Linked DNA regions of Homo sapiens. The gene in region 1 interacts genetically with each later gene. Each region holds a gene or a part of one and is shown on either strand. Other genes may lie near its edges.

Region 1 (5,896 bases):
GACTTTAGTTAATAATAATGTATTAGGCCAGGCACGTTGGCTCACGCCTGTAATCCCAGCACTTTGGGAAGCCGAGACAGGTGGATCACCTGAGGTCAGGAGTTTGAGACCAACCTGACCAACATAGAGAAACCCCGTCTCTACTAAAAATACAAAATTAACCAGGCGTGGTGGTGCATGCCTGTACTCCCAGCTACTCGGGTGGCTGAGGCAGGAGAATCGCTTGAACCTGGGAGGCAGAGGTTGCAGTGGGCCGAGATCACGCCATTGCATTCCAGTAATACCAATACTACTACTACTAATAATAATGTATTGACATTGGCTCATTGTGTCAAATGCCTCATGCTAACATGTTAATAGAGGAAATTGAGTATGGAGTATGTGGGAACTCTCTATACTATCTTCCCATTTTCTCCATAAATCTAAAACAGTTCTAAGAAAATAAAGTTTGTCTAGAGAAAATACCAGCTTAAAAAAGAGGTAGACAGACTTGAAAAGAGACTACAGAGACACACTAATAATGTAATTTGTGAACCTTGGTGGGGACAGCTATAAAAGCTATTTAGGGGATACATGGGGAAATATGAATATGAAACTTTGGGTGGTTGATCCATTTTTTTACCTGTGATAATGGAATTGTGGTTAAATGGGAGAATCTCCTCCCTCTTGCAGGAAAGGCATGCTGACATATTAAGTGATGTCCTGAAGTGTGATGATGAAGTTTGCAACTTAGCTCGAATGAATCAGGAGGGGAGGAAAAGCACATCTGGAGAGAGCAAAAGCAACAGTGGTAAAATGTTAAAAATGGTGAACCTAAATGAAAAGTATACTGGTGTCCATCCTATTTTCTTTCACATTTTCTGTAGATTTGAAATTTTTCAAAATTAAATTTCAGGGAAAATATAATTTTAGATTTGGACAAAATGATATGAAAGCTTATCTGAAAAAAATAAACATGCAGTAACTAGAAAAAATTCCTAAAAATGAGGTATGGACTAGCAATACCCAAGACAAAAATATATAACAATTTAAAATAATTAAAAGACTCGTATTTTTTGCAACAGACTACAGAACCCAGAAGCATATCTAACCAGACATATGGAAATTTGATGTATGAATGAGGATGATGGTTTTTCCAATCAGTGTTGAAAAAGTTAATAAATGGGGTTAGAATAGATTGCTATTGGAGAGAAAAATGTTGAATCCTCTCCTCACTCTTACTACCTAGACAAATTCCAAATGAATCAAAGATTTAAAAGTTGAAAAAAAAACCTTTAAAATACTGGAAAAATACATTAAATTTATTCTTAAATGCAAAGGTGGCCTTTCTAAGCAAGGCAAAATCTCAGAAGCTGTAAAGACTAAGTTTAACTACATAAATAAAACTTAGGAAAATATTATTAAACATGACAATGGACCAATTTTCTTAGCTTACAAAAAGCTCATACAAATCAATAAAACACATACCACCTAATAGAAAACAGAACATGACTACACATTTCACAGGAAATATCAGTAATCAATAAACATGAAAATGTGTTCCATCTCCTTCATTAAAATGTACCAGACCTTCATTAAAATGCATTAGAACTTCATTAAAACGCAAGATACCATTTATTCACTTTCACATGATCAGACTTCAAAAGTTTAGTACCCAGTATTGGCATGGGTTTGGTAAATAATCATTCTCATACATTATATGTGGAAGCATACTGGGCAAAGATTTCTAGAGGACAATTTGGCAGTAACTACTGAACTGAAAATAAAAAATACCCTCTGATCCAGCAATTGTATTGCTAGGTACACTGTAGAATAAAAACTCATTATATGTACAAGTATATTCACCACAATGTGATTTAATATTGGAAACAACCTAAAGAGCCTATCAGTGTTTGAACATTTGTAACACATTCAAACATTAGAATACCACACAGCCGCTAAAAATAATGAGGTATTTTTATATATACTGATACAGAAAGATCTCATAAAACACAGGTAGCAAAAAAAGCAAGGTACAGAAGAGTATATATAGTCTGATTCTATTAATGTGAAATTTTTAAAGTACAAATTTGCTGATAAAAAATAAAAAATTGTTTTCCTGTGAGTACAAGACACTTGAAACTGGTTACTTTTGGAGAGGAGTATTAGGGTAGGAGGGAAGGGACCAAGTTTTTATACCTTTCTGTACCATCTGATCTTTTCGCCATGTGCATACATCATCTTTCTTGCCCCCACTCCCCTTTCTAAGAACACTTAATTAACAGGTTATTTTGAGATATTCCTAGGTAGGTTTGAATACCGGTGGTGTTATTTTTCAAAATACTGTAGATAAGTGCCAAGTTTTGCAATTTAGAACTTCCCCTTGGATTTTCATTAAACTTTATATTTGCTTCCTTGATGCTTTAATCATAACGATTTCCTATTAAGTATAAAGTGACACTTTCAATGGGAGTTTGGCTTTATAACAAATTTGTGATGGAATCATTAGACACTGCTGCTCAAGAACCCATTTTTACACCCCAAAGGGCATTTGATGATTTATAAACATCATCAAGATTATACATTCTATTTTGACTATTAAAAACATAAAACTGCAGTAAGATTTTACATGTACAATTAAATTATCCATTGAATTCAGTAAAACAGCATCACAGTAGAAAAATACAGTCATAAAATTAGCTCTTACATTTTTCTGGGGACAGAAAAGCAGAAGAAATGAGATTAAAAGTCCAAAAAAAAAAAGCCCAAAAAACACTACCAAAAACAGGGTGAGACAATCATTTATTTATTGGACAGGGCAAGGTCATTTAAAGATTGGAAACATATCCCAAAAACACGTGTTTAGTTTGGTGTTACAGGCATTGATGCTCACAACAAACAACATTATTCAATACATCATGTAAACAGGCCACATACAACCAGGAAGATGCTGTCAAGCCACTGAGAAGCCACAATGCTTAGAAAACAATCATTAGGGAGTTACAGAGAATAATCACCTCCAACTCATTGATATGCATATTCTGCGGCTGCACAGTATTTGGCTGGTTCCCTGGTTATTAAGTGAGTCGTTCCGTATTTTAAAGAGCCTTGATTGGTACACACTTCTGAATATCACTGAAATCAGTCAAGCAAAGGCTTAACTAGCTCACATCATATTTTTGAACTACCCTAGGCAATAATTGACTGTCTCACAGTACTGTAGATAAAATTCTGTACTTAGCATATTTAGCAGTGTTACAACGCATCCAAATCACCTTTAAGTCCTATGGTACATACTTGAAAAAGACAGCAGAAACTCACTGGAGTAAATGAAAAAAGAAATTTGGGGAGCTCACCTGGCCTGAGGTATACAAGCTGCTAGCAAAGATAGACACACGTGAAAACCACTTTGTCAATTATTTGCCAAGTCATTTGGCCTGATTTTTGGCCTGATTTTTAGCCTGATTTTTAGCAGGACTCTTCCCGACTGAGGAGGCAAAGATTTCAACATCCATTCTAGAGACTAGCCACAGTATTATAAGTAGTAATATATCATAAATGCTTGGTTATGAGGAAAAACTACTCAGCATAAGATTCACGGAGAAAAACCTGTTAGGTATCTGGCCCTCTTGCCTGAAATCTATTGATTTTACCAACCACTCCCTTTCACAGCAATAAGAGTTCTCAAGATGAGAAGAATTTTCTCACTCCATATAGAAAATCATATTTGGGAAGCCAGTCCCAAAAGACCGAATATTGTAGAATTCCATTTATATGAAATGACCAGAATAAGCAAATCTACAGAGAGAGAAATAGATTAGTGGTTGCCAGGGGCTCGGGGATGGGGTGGGCACTGGGAGAAAATGAGAGGTGACTGCTCAAGGGTACAGGGTTTCTTTTTGGGGTAACGAAATGTTCTAAAATTGACTGTGGTCACGGTTACACAACTTTGTGAATACACTAAAAACCACTAAATTGTACCCTTAAAATAAGTGAATTGTAAGGTATGTGAATTATATCTCAATAATGTTACAAACATATTAAGAAACGAAGACATACCCCAAAGAGAAGGAAACAAGAGGCTCTTCCAAACCAAATCGTACCAGAAGAAAACAGTAGCCAAGTCTGATGGAAGGAGCTTGTTTCTTGCATGCTATTTTATCATCATCACTTTAACCCGATTTCACATTTTTAATTCATTTCTAAATTATTTTAGGTTATCGGCAGATTTCTAACTTTGTTCTCATTAGAGAGCAGAGTCAGTGTTCCGCAGACAGACTGGGCTGGCGTAACAAACCAAAACTAAACAACAATAAAAACCCAATGAAAAATAATCTCATGCTTTGGGGCTATGTGTTACCAGTCAGAAGAGAAGAGCTGATGTCCATTTCTAAAGGAAAATAAAATGCCTACAAGTACAATGGCATCTTATGACTCATGCCTAAAGCACATTTCCTTTTCAAACCTGCATACAGTTATTCCCTTTTTACACCTATACAATTCAACAAAAGCAATGTTTTTATACCTGTACAATCCAAAAAAAGCAACGTTCTCTACAAAGAAATGTTGAGCTTCCTACAGCTCTCTAGCTCAAAGAGCTAGCCAATTTCCTTAAAAGTAAAATTACTGTTTCTAAAAATATCAACTCTGTATCCTCATCCTCACTTTCAGCAACATACAGTGAAGATGGAAAACTTGAAGACTGCTATAAACCAGAAACTACAAAACAATTTCTTAAATGACCTGATTTTCCTAAAAACCTTAAAAACATTAGTTCCAAATACTGAGAATATATTTGGCCCAATTCCTTTGAACTCTGTCTTTAGATTAATGACGAGTTTCCTTTATTTCACTTATTCACTAGTTTAGTATGAAATAAACAGAGTTTGAATCAGTTAAACTGGCTAATGACAATTTTCCTCAATGATTTTTCTTCTGCATAGGCATGATAATGAAATCACAAAAGGTCTTCAACTAGTCTTCAACTATTCTTACACTATATAATCAATTAGGGAAATTTTTACAGACAAATGAAGAGAACACAAGTAGCTTTACAGTAAGTTGAGCCTGTTACATATATTTGTTCTGACAAAGAATTTCTGACACAAAAATTGCTCACTGCACACAGAATCTCAGAGAAATGATGAAACAAGACAGCTGATGGTAGAAGGTATATGGGAGCAGGGTAGGGTGAAAAGTCACAAATAAATTAAAAACTGGCAAGTACTTCTGAAGCAGAGCCACTTTTTAGGGGACACAAGAAAAACTGTTAAATCACCATTTTGGTCTCATCAGGGAAGTCCATTTGTTAAGAATTGAAGACCATTTTACTATAATTCATGCTGCAAAACACAGCAGTCACACAGTATTTCCAAAAGGATTCCAAAAATTGTAGTGCAAAAGAAAAGAAATCTAAAAAAATAAATAATCACAAAAACCACCAACATTTTTCAAGGAAATGTGTTCAAAACAGTGGCTTTTACAAAAGATGTGGATTTGTTTTAAATGAAAAAAAAAATAATTCCTATATGAAATACCAAAGACTCATTTCACATATAACTTACACTGCATTAATGATTGGATTAACAGTATATAAACAAGGGCCATGGTTTTTTTTACTAAAGTAGGTCTGAAAGATCAATATAAATACTAATGGGGGCAGGGAGGAGTGTTTTATACCCCAAACTCCAATATTCCAGCTCTGTGTCCTGTCCTATTATTATAATTTGTAAAAATCTTAACGACGCAGTGATTCGAGTTTTCGTAACTTCAATGATGTGTTAGAGGACAATGCATCTTGGTTTGAAGAATTTGCTGTATCCGAAGGCCGGAAAAGTACTCGACCACGATGATTAAATACATAAAAGGATGGGTGATTCCTTAACGTATCAAATGTCCTTGAAAGAAGAAAAAAGCA
Region 2 (5,495 bases), on another chromosome or scaffold:
CTTATTAAGAGATTGACTGGTCAAAGTTCTAATTTCCTACTATTTCATATCTATCATGTTTTGTTTTTGCTGGTACACCTTGGCCTAAAATATCTTTTCCCTCATTCTCTGCCTTCCAAAATCCTACTTGTTCCACCATATACAGCTGAAATGCCATCTTACACATACTTCCCTGCAGCCTAACAGGAATTAAATATTGTTTTCTCTGAACTTCTACAGTATGTTGCTTTTACCTCTACCTGGTAGTTTTGTTTATTTTTTATTCATGTGTGCATTTGTCTCTCTAGTCAACTGTGACTTCCTTAAGCTTATTCTTCTTTCTGACCTCAACAGCATCTATCACTGTGCTCTGAACATGGAAATAGTGTTTCGTGGGAGGAAAAAGCCTGGGCTTTTCAGAGTGCAGTATACCTGGATTCTGAACCCAGCTGTGTTATTTCCCATTTGTTGATATTGGGCATTAGCGAAACTTTCTATGCCTTCATTTACCCATCTAGACAGGAACTAATAATAGCTTCTCAAGGGGAACGGATAAAGATTAGATATAATAAATGCAAAATGTCTGGCAGACAGTAGAGCATCACTAAATGGTAGCGATCACAACTTTTGCTACAATGATTATAATAAAGAGCTTGTTGAATAAACTTATAAAATGACCTAGTGTCCACAGTAACTAGCACAGTGCTGAGCACATGGGGGAAGCTGGTAAATACACCTTGACTCTGGCTTGTGGAGGGTGAAGTCTCTATTGTTAGTGACCTACCTTGAACTCTTTCTCAATATTGGCCAGAACTGCCAGTTCATTGCTAAGTTCTAAAGCCGTCATGACTGGATCTTCACTAGACAATGACAGGTAAGCCGGACTTGCCAGGCCTTTATAGGCATTAATCCTAGATCTGGAGTGGCTAAACGAGTCATGCTTCTGTTTCTGGTTGCAGTCATTGCACTTGCAGAAATAATCATGAGGCCGTTCAATCCTAGCACCCTTCCGCAGGAGGGTATGCACAATTTCATATTCCTGGCAGTGGGCAGCCAGAATGATTGGAGTCACATCATGGGAGAACCGTGTCCCATCTTCATCATAGGCATAAAAATCATCTTGCTGGAGTTCAGACTGGCTAGGGCTGGTTGCTAACCTCTTGCCTTCAGCAAAAGCCGGATGACTGAGAATTGCTTCCACAATCCGAACATAACCTTTACTAATAGCTAGAAGCAAAGCATCCCCAACTCGAGAGAGGTTTTCTTTCTTGAGAAGAAGTTCTGTAATTTCCAGATGCTCATTGGCCACTGCCAACTGTAGGGCATTCTGGCCCATGTAATCCACACAGTTAACGTTGAGTGAGTGGCATTCTTCTAACATCTTCCGCACCACTGGGATGTTACCATATTCAGCTGCATCCAAAAAGCGTTCCTCCTCTATAGATAGGCTTGTGGAGCGATCACTAAACATGTATGCTGGTCCTCGATTAGCTAACCTTCTCCCCTTCTCACGGAGAACTGTCTGCCGCCGGTGAGCCAGTCTGTTGTCAGATCCCCGGCTGCAATAAAACAGAAAGATTGTAAACAAATCACATTAAGAGCATTTTAGTGTGCCAAATGACTTGCCATTCATCTAATACAATCCTCAAGTATATTAGATGTTGTCTCATCATCTCTAGACCTACTATATTATAAAATGAAGATGCATTTATTTGTTAATGGATTCCAAGAACTTCACGTCTAAGAAAGCCAAGCACTTTGCAGATTTTAACATTCCCATTTGGGGTGGAGACTAGCAATTGCCATAATTACTCTGTGCCATTCAGATAGAAACTAATGTACTATATAGATGGTATAGACTTAGGAAAGATGTCTATATCCATACCCTCTTATCCATATGCAGTCACAATGTGATAGAGAATATAAGACTACATTTTAAGAAGTAGAGACAATAGCAAATCCACTCAAGTTAACAAATATTTATTGAGTCCCTCTGATGCCAGGTCTAGGAACTATATTCGGTCCAAGAAGGCCAATAGTGAAAAAACAAATAGATGCTTTTTCCTGCCTCTACAAGTCTTATAGACCAAAGAGAGAGATGGGCAATCAGCATACTGCTTTGTTATCAGCTGCTTAATTATAATGATAAGCCTATAATGGGGCATCTATCCCAGATTCTGAGAGAAAATGACAAGCTGAAAATGGAAGGATAAGTAGAAGTCAGGTGAGAGTGTACTTCAGGAGGGTGAGACAGGGGTTAGGTATAGGTAGAAAGTTTTCTCTAGCAGAGGTATCGGCTAGATGTTAGAGTATAGGTTTCATTAATATGGGCAATAAATGCTTGAACTCTGCTGTCCTAAAAATCACTGCAGACTGGAGAAAATTATAATCAAGTTGTCAGGTAGGAAAAAACACTTCTATGGTGCAGGCAGTGGTCAGAGCAGTGGCCAGCCTTCAACGTAGTCCTTCAATCTGTGATAAGAAGGGAAAGTGAGCCGGGTGCTATGGCTCACGCCTATAATCCCAGGACCTTGCAGGGCCAAGGTGGGCGAATCACTTGCCCAGGAAGTCAAGACTAGCTTGGACAACATGGCAAAACCCCATCTCTGCAAATAATAGAAAAATTAGTGGTGCATGGTGGCACATGCCTGTAGTCCCAGCTACTCAGGAGGCTGAGGTAGAGTATCAATTGAACCCAGGAGATCAAGGCTGCAGAGAGCCATGACTATGCCTCTGCACTCCAGCCTGGGTGATAGAACAAGATCCTATATCAAAGAAAAAAAAAAAAAAAAAGGAAGGGGGCTGTGATTCTTCCTCTGATCAAAATGCTATAATGAAGATTTTTTCGTTATTAATTCATAACTTCGTGTCTTAAGGTCTTTTGAGCTTCAAGGGATCTCATTACAATTAGAGGTTCAACTCTTACCAGTATCACTAACTGAACCCAAAGAAGGCATGTTTTTGCAGAACTGGAACAGGGCCAGGTTATAGGGGAGGCTAAAGAGGCATCCCTCTTTAAAAACGGTCACAAACTTCCCAGTATAAAGAGGACAATAAAAAGATCCAAGGGCCTCATAAGCTATCTTTCCCTCCAATATGTTCAGGTCTGGAGAATCTTAGTTGCTTTCCCTACTGGCCTTTATCAGTCTTGATTCCACATCTCCAGACAGTGCTGTCTGTGGCAGTGTGATGGACAGGAATAGAAAGGAAGATAGTAAAGTTTCAGCAACTCACAAACAGATTTTGCTTCTTGGAGGAGCTTGAAGAGTATACCACCATATTGACAAATATTTTTCATAGATTTTCATTCAACAGTGATTCCTTTAACTATCCAAGTCCTATTCAAAATCAACCAAACTGATGTTTTTTTCAAAGAGACAACTTTGTAAGTTTCGAAAATGACATGAAGGGCCGATATCAAGTTATACAACCTAATAATTTCTAAAATGGGTCATTAGATAATACATATGCAACTTTTATTATAAGAGAATAGCATCTGTAACTATTTTGTCCCATAGCTATTACTTTGTTTTTAATTCCATTTTTAATTTTAGTAAAGTTATACATGTGCATATTTTAGTTTATTCTATGTCTTGATCTCCAGAGGTGATACATTTCAATTTAACTATTTTAGCTGGTTATTTTATAATTTTAAATGTTATAACCACATAGCTTTGGTTATATTGTTACTTCTTGATTTTTCAGGTTTGGCATTACCTATGGACTTCCCATTACACCATACCTTCACGTATCTCTCTCTCTCTCTAACACACACACACACACACACACACACACACACACACACACACACAGACCCCCTTCATGGTCCCTTATCATTCCAGAATTGTTATATCATGACTTTTTTTTAGATAACTATTTACTGTTTAAAACATGACAATGCAAGTGCTAATCATAGCTAAGTGGTATACTATAGTGTCTTTTCAGGTACAGCTTCCCTATAACCTTAAACCTAATAGATAAAAATTCTCTTCATTTTCTCAGTGCTCTATATACATATGACTAATTCAATCAAACTCTCTTCTCCATCAATATAAGTCTTATTTTAATACATTCTACATATTAAGTGGGTATTTTTTTTTTTCAATTTTGGAAAATCTAGACAGCAGTTGCTGTCTAGACTTGATGCATGTATGTTCTCTTTGAATCTTCCTTTGGTATCATTCCAAGGATTCTCTTCACTTTGCTTTTGTATTGGGGTCCTTGTTTTCTGTATCCCAGATCTTCTTTTATCTGAGTTGACTTCTTTGTTCTAGTACAGCACATCTTCCAACAGCTGTCTAATAAAGCATGCATAGGTGAATTTTTAAAGAACGTGTACATCTAAAACTGACTTTGTCCTACCTCTAAACTTAACTGATAGTTTGGCTGGGTAGAGAATTCAAGGTTGAGGATAATTTTGGAGGCCTTGCTCTAATAAATTATAGTTTTGTGGCTACTATTGAGAAGCATGATGCAATTTTGATTCTGGATATTGTCTTTGTCTCTGGTGTCCTAAAATTACATGGTTGTTTATTGAAGGGAGTCTCTTCTCCACAGTGCTGCCCATTTAATCTGGAATAAAAAGTGTCCTTTTCTTAGAAATAGTCTTGCCCTATTTATCTGATCATTTTGTTTTCTGCTTTCAATGTACCATTTCTGGAACTCCTTCTTTTTGATGTTGGACATCCTGTAATTGTCCTTTAATTTTCTTATCTTTTCTATTTCCAATTATTTATGTTCAATATTATTTATTATATTCTGGGAAATTTCTTCAACTTTAGATTATATCTATGAAAATTGCTATTATATTTTTAATTTTCAAAAACACCCTTTATTTTCAAATGTTACTTTTTATAAGACTTTTCTGCTTTTAAAGGCACAAACATTTTTTCTTCTCTCTCTGGGGATGTTAAAGATTGCACACATCACAATTTAGAGAACTTACTCCTGAGTTGCTTTTTTATGTTTGTTTGCTTTGGTCTCTGTATTTCATAGTAGAATTTTTCCTCGTATAGCTAGTGATTCTTAGTAGATATTCTTTGCTTCTTTTTAAAGAAATATTCCTTATAATGTCTTTTCTAAGAGAGTATAATTTCCCCTTATAAAAACTAGAGTGAGCCTAATGTTGGTTTTGGCAAAAGGTGATGTCTGAGTTACGGTGAGTTTCTAGAAGAATCACATTATTTCTGAGTTAACAAGATGGATGAGGTAGAAGAGACAGGAGATCATCAAGGTTTGTTACATGAGGAAACATCATCTTCCTACTGAAATTCTTAACCCTCTTCCCTTCTCTCTGTCACTTTTCTGGCTTCTACTAACCTCTTTAGGCTTTCACTTCCTCTCTCTTATCTTCTGTATTTATTGCTTTGCGTAGTTTCTATTGTAGACAAGAGGAAGTTCAAAGATTAGGGGGAGAGACAGTATCTTCCAAACATGAAGAATGCTTTGAAAAAGAAAAACTGTAAATTTAAGGGAGAAACAAAATAGGATCAGGGATCTATAAAAGTAAGATGAAA

Evidence for each region.
Region 2: changes in MMGT1 (region 1) and TRPC6 together harm fitness less than expected from each alone (positive genetic interaction), as found in Homo sapiens cells (one large-scale study listed by BioGRID).

The regions. Positions count from the first base shown.
Region 1 is NC_000023.11:135,959,308-135,965,203, forward strand, and holds the end of MMGT1 (ER membrane protein complex subunit 5), read right to left. Parts: intron 5,877-5,896; coding exon 5,717-5,876; 3' UTR 1,281-5,716; downstream 1-1,280. UniProt on the Homo sapiens protein: Part of the endoplasmic reticulum membrane protein complex (EMC) that enables the energy-independent insertion into endoplasmic reticulum membranes of newly synthesized membrane proteins.
Region 2 is NC_000011.10:101,503,261-101,508,755, forward strand, and holds part of TRPC6 (short transient receptor potential channel 6), read right to left. Parts: intron 1,539-5,495; coding exon 764-1,538; intron 1-763. UniProt on the Homo sapiens protein: Forms a receptor-activated non-selective calcium permeant cation channel. Probably is operated by a phosphatidylinositol second messenger system activated by receptor tyrosine kinases or G-protein coupled receptors.